2 separate regions of the Homo sapiens genome follow, and region 1 is linked to region 2. The links come from fine-mapping of genetic effects on gene expression. A gene starts in region 2. The other region holds a variant in brackets. All regions are shown on one strand. Distances are from middle to middle. Region 1 overlaps NCF2 (neutrophil cytosolic factor 2). Region 2 holds the start of SMG7 (SMG7 nonsense mediated mRNA decay factor).

The links. PIP is the estimated chance that this variant, and not a neighbour inherited with it, causes the effect.
Region 1: its variant is the best candidate, but not a certain one, in a credible set for the expression of SMG7 in monocytes after LPS (Fairfax 2014, PIP 0.62).

The regions. Positions count from the first base shown.
Region 1 is chr1:183,574,576-183,577,474 of GRCh38, forward strand. It overlaps NCF2 (neutrophil cytosolic factor 2), which reads right to left. Exons shown (of 15, transcript NM_000433.4): 4 at 1-46. Among named protein-coding and RNA genes, the nearest start is that of NCF2, 14 kb to the right of the region's middle. The variant C/T (reference allele first, on the strand shown) is at 1,955.
Region 2 is chr1:183,471,005-183,473,907 of GRCh38, forward strand. It overlaps SMG7 (SMG7 nonsense mediated mRNA decay factor), which reads left to right and starts at 1,495. Exons shown (of 23, transcript NM_001375584.1): 1 at 1,495-1,645. The coding sequence starts at 1,617. SMG7-AS1 (SMG7 antisense RNA 1) reads right to left here and starts at 978. Exons shown (of 5, transcript NR_040063.1): 1 at 1-978. RefSeq lists an enhancer at 546-1,177 and a silencer at 1,333-1,482.

The DNA of each region.
Region 1 (2,899 bases), 100 kb after region 2:
TCCATTCCTCCTTCTTGGCATACATGAAAGCAATGTTATATAACACCTAGAAAAGTACAGACCGCAACATAAAACTTGAGACTACTCCAAATCAAGGTGCCAGGGAAAGGCTCACACGTATACTCTGAGAATGTTGCCTGGTAGCCTTTCTCCCTTTCTCAGCTCTCCTGGGAATATCTAAAATATAGTGCAATTAGTCTTGCTATTGAGTTATGTCAAACACAAACATGGTGTTAAGAAAACACCATGGAATGCGTAAATGCAACATCATTTGTACTCTTCCAACAACGAAATAGGTCAGGAAGGGACAAGAATTATTGTATACAGTGTGTTCAAACCAGGTTAAAAAAAAGAAGAAGAATTGTTGTGTTGTTTTAGTATGAGTTGCTTTAGTAAAAGAGTGACTTGCTCAAGGCCCCTTCTAGAGGCAGACACAGGGTTGGGAATAAAATACAGGTGTGTGGTCTTCCAGTCCACCTCCTGCCACTGTACCTAGGCTGAAACACTGGACAGGTACAGAGCCGGAAGATGGATCAAGATGCAACCTCCTGTACCAGCACCAGCAGAACCTGGCCCAGACCATGTGAGTAACAAGACTAATGTAGCAACACAGGCCAGGCGCAGTGGCTCATGCCTGTAATCCCAGCACTTTGGGAGGCCAAGGCGGGTGAATCACTTGAGGTCAGGAGTTTGAGATCAGCCTGGCCAACATGGAGAAACCCTGTCTCTACTAAAAATACAAAAATTAGCTGGGCATGGTGGCAGGCACCTGTAATCTCAGCTACTTGGAGGCTGAAGCAGGAGAATTGCTTGAACCCAGAAGACAGAGGTTAGCACAGAAGCCAGGGGCACCTTCACCTCAGGTGGGGGGGGAATGGTAAATGCAACAGTGTCATACTTTTCCAGGTCTTGAGTTGGGCTGTGGTTCTTGAGTGTCTATTTTACTATTGTGCTTCACAATTTACACACAGAATCAAATAATCGTTTGGATGCATTACCAAGATCTAAAAAATGGCCCGACTGAAATAAATTTTTTAAATAGGATATTATGGAAATTAGGGGGTGTGACATTTGAGGCTAGATTATAAAAGACATTGACACTGTCTTGCTCTTGGGTCACTTGCTCTCAGAGACGCCAGCTGCCATGTCATGACAAGACTTAGGCAGCCCTAGAGAGAAGTTCATGTAGCGAAGAACTGAGGCCTCCTGCCAACAATGACGTGAACTTGCCAAACTCAGACAGGTGGAAGGATTGATGTTTCTGTGGCATTAGTGGCTGGTGCTGAATGGTGGGGGCCAGGATCAACCCCGGAAGTGGAAATCTGGACTCCTTTCAGTCCTATTTCTGAGATTCAATGAGCTACTGCCTTCTGAATTCGTTGGCTTCTCCAGCCCACTCCTGACCTTGTGTGCAGAAAGAAAGAACTCAGATCGTTTAAAATTTCCTATTTGGTTCTCAGCCACCTTCTCTTAAGACATTTCTCTACAATCAGTTTTTATGAACTAATGATGAGAAAAACCTTGACACTCTTCAAAAATAATGATGTGATTCTCAGAAGCCAGGGTCATACCACATCAGGAAGAGAAGGATTATAAGTAGGGAAATGACTGGAAGGTCCCATGTGACAAAGAGGGCCTTAGACCCTGAAAAGTTCAGCTTTACTTGCAGAGAGGGCCACTCAGCCAGTATTTTCTGTCCTCTCAGGGCCATTTTAACCCCAACTCCAGGGGAAACATTCCTCCCATGGAACTGTACTTTGATGCTGCTGTGACATAATCCTTTTTCTAGAGCCACTTGTCCCCCAACTTTCTAATCTGTATAAGTGGCTGTCATTGGCTTATTAGCAATGTCTGGAGGGATTTTAGGTTGTCACATTGGGTGGGGAGTGGTGGTGGCAGTGCTAGTAGCATCTAAAAGCTAGAGATGCCGTCAAAGTTCCCACGATGCGCAGGA[C/T]GCACCACAACCCCTCTCTCGCCTCTGCTACAATACAAGATTGTCTGGTCCAACATATTAACAGAGCTACAGCTGAGAAACCTTACTCGAGAAGTTGGTCGAATGGCAGCCAATTCCAACTGCAAAGCCCCATCTTCTCAGACTGTGAGACGTGAAGTTAGTTGCTAGCCTGCTGCAGGGTTGGGATGGGGCCATATGTCCCCAGGGGCCGAGGGCGGCTACAGACTCTATTATTAGCCCTGAGCGACCCTGGGAACACTTGACTTCTTGTGCCTGAGAAACTAAAGCAAGGGGACTTTTGTCAGTGATTTTTCTAAAGAAAGGTCTTTGACATTTACAGGAATTTTGGTTTTCAAAACTGCTAGTATATATTTGGAAGTGGGAGGGGTGGGAAGGGCCAACCGGAAAAAGTAAATGAACCTGCAAAGTCAAAGCCAGTCATGTCTCTCCCTTTTGATAATAGAGAAAAGAAGTTGTTTTGCAGAAACCTTTACCTAAATATGTGCCTTGAGCTGTTCTTTGAGCAAGAGGGGACAGATTTATGCCAAATTATCCTCAGTCTCTCTTTAGGTATCAATCAAGTACATGGGGTAAGAACCATGGATAGTAAAGAGTGTGGTCTATAAACTTGGGAACTGAGCAAGCTTCTGGCAGGTCCTGCACGGACAATGAACTCATGATTTTGGATTTGCTAGCAAAATGCTGAACAAATAGCTTGTCAATCTGAAGTGCCAATCAAAACATGCAAATTATCATGAATATTTCCACAAGCCAACACACTCGTGTCCAGCCTCCCTTCAGAGAGCCCGGGGGGCTCATTTTTGCATGGTCCTTTGCGCTTCACATTAATAAAATGTATGCCCCCAGGTAACTGATGACAATGCCTTGATGAGCCTGAAATAATCCATCTCAGTCTTTTCTTCAAGGAAAATCTGAGTCTCAAGG
Region 2 (2,903 bases):
CTTTTAAAACACTGCAGACCCGTGAGAAGAGAAAGGTTGCAGAGCAGGGAGGAACTTGGAGGTCTGCCTTTAATAATCAAGCAGGATCCCCACTGCGGGGTGCCTATCAGAGTGATGGCGCTAGTCAGCCTTCCGGCTTGTCCCCGGCTTAAATGATAGAAAACCACGTGTTAGCCTTCTAGGATGTGTTCCCACCCTCACCCTGGCCTCCTCGCGGCAGGCTCGCGACAGCTAGGTCAGGAGGGAGTACGCGGGTGGGGTGGATTTGGGGGAGGGGTCGACTCGCCAGAAGTCGGCTATCCCCGTCGGCAGGGAAGGCATCGCGGCTGTCGTGTGCCGCTCTCCTCCCTCAGGGACCCCGTCCAGGCGGGATCCCGCCTCCCAGAGCCCAAGGCAGTTGTGGGGAAACCCCTTGCCCTTCCTCGCCGCTTGGCGCTGTCGCCTCGCCCTCCCGACTCCAGCCCGCCGCCCGCCAGCCTCCAGGCCATGCATCCTCTTCGCAGGCCCAGCCCTCTCCACGCCCGGCTCTGAGAGGAAACTACGGAGGTGGTTCCCGCTCGCAGGCGGGTGGAAAAGCCCATGGTGAATGCCTCGGGGTGTCCCCCCAGTTGCTGTGGGAAGTGGGAAGGGAGGAGGAAGTGGACTTCACCACCGGGGAGAACTATATCGATTCCTAACTTGGGGGAGGCCTTTAGATGGAAGGGAAGCCAACGGGGAACCCTGGGTGGTTTCCTGGGAATCCATTGGCCAAGGGGAGGGTGACCCTGTCCGCACACATCGGTTACTATGACAATATAACCACAGCCTCCAGTTGCCATGGCAGCTGCCTATCCAATCCGATTGTCTTCTCTTCCTCTCCGGGCCCCACCTTATCCCCTCCAAGAGTCTCCCAGCGTGCATGGGGAGGGGCTGCAGCGAAGAGGAGAGGGGGTCCTTCGAGTCACTCTCTACGCGCGAGGGAAGACAGGCGTTGAGGGACTGCTGGGAGGAACTGTAGGAGGAAGGGGCGGCGTTTCCGGTGGGGAAGAGTGGAGGCGTGCAAAAAGGAAGAGGGAAATCGGCAGGAGTGATAAGAAGGGGGAAGACTTTGAGTGTAACTCCCGTTCTTTTGGCCTGGGTGTTCCCGGTGGTGGGATTGGGATTGCCCCCTTGCGCGGGAGGAGAAGGGTGGATTGGCAGGAAGCCGCCAAGCGCCACCAGCCGGTCTCTCAGAAGCCGCACAGGCGCCACACAGCTCGTTGATCCCAAAAGGGAGCGCTACAGAGAGGCGGAAATCACTGAGGGACAGGCGCTGCTGAAATCTCGCGAGAGGGACCCCCTCCCTCGCCCGGTCGCCGACTTCCTCTGCTTCTCCTCTTTCCCCCGCCCCTCCTCCCTCCCCCTCCCCCCCGGGTCGGAGTGTCCCTGCGCCCCACGGGCCAGAGCAGCAGCGAGAGCAGCTTTCCCCACTCCCTCCCCCTCGCCTCATTCACCCCCACCCCCCTGCCGAGCGAGGAGGAGCCGGAGGAGAGGAAGATGGCGGCGGCCGCCAGCACCCGCGGTGCCGCGGGGCCGCTCCGAGGAGCCTGAGAGACCCACGGAGGCTTCGCGGGAAGACGCGGCGGCGGCGGCGGAGGATGAGCCTGCAGAGCGCGCAGTACCTCCGGTGAGTGCCGAGGCCGGGCTGGTACGTAGGGGGAGCGGGCCGCAGGTTGGGGCATGGAGCAACAGACACCGAGGTAAGTCCGGGGTGGCGGGGGAGTTGCTGCGTCCTCTCCTCGCCGGGCAGGTCGGCGGAGACTGCAAGGGGATCTGCGGGAGGGGGCGGAACGGGTATGGGTGCCTAGCCCCTACCGCCCGGGCTGAGCTCTGGCGAAGCCGGCTCGTCCCGGTGCGAGGAGGGAGGTTGGGGAAGCGTGAGAATGTGCGCGCGCGCCCTTGGTCTCGGGTTTGCTAGCGAGGGGTGGAGAGAAACGTCCGGGGAGGCGGCGGCGACCCCGAGTGGAGGTGGGTGTGGAGGAGTCTGATCCCCGTGGCAGGGGACTCGTGGTGTGGCGTGGGATTGGTTGGAGCGATGCATGAGTAGAGGACGGGGAGGAAGTCTGCACACCTGGGGTGTTGGGGCGGGGGAACCGCGGAGGGCAGACAGGGGGAGAGGGAGACCGCAGGAAACTGGAGCTTGTTCTTCATTCTCGGGTTGGGAGTATTGAGGAATAATGTCATCTGTAGTTAGTTGGCGGTGTGGGGAGGCGTGAAGGGGAATAGATGGGGAAGTGAGGAAAGAGGGAGGCACTGTGGACAAGGTTGGGTTTTTCAGAAGAAACTGGGTTAGAATCAGTGTAGTCGGAAGATACCATTCTGAGAGTCGTGTGTATTCATTAAGAGTGGTGTAAGGAACTTGTATGTCAGAGGTAGAGTGACACATGGGAATAGTGTGTGTGTGTGCGAGATGTGTGTCTGGGGTGGGGGGCGCGGCGATTGATGCACATTTCAGGATGAAGATGTAGATAGGTTGAACTTAGTACCTGATGGCGAGAACATATTGAATGGAAGGACACCAGCTTTTGTGTCAGCTGAAAGGTTCCATGGAAGCTGAGTAAGAGCTTGGAGGCAGAGGTAAAGTGGGTCAAAAATCTTGATAGAGAAAAGTAAGGTTGTTAGATCCTGAAATTAACTGGGGAGTGACTACTGCTTAGAAAAGGGGAAGACTTTAAAATTGGTCCTTTTTGTCTTTCAGGAGCAGAACTAAGAAAGGGAGGCCTTATGGAAAGATGTTTTTTAAAAAATTGTTTCATACCTTGCGGAGGAGGGAGTTGGATGAGGTGGAAGTCTGAAATGAGTGGAAAAGTCACTTTAGCTGTTTAGTGACATGAAAGTATTGACGTGTGTGGATCCCTATATGTATATTGCAAGAGGTGTGTAGT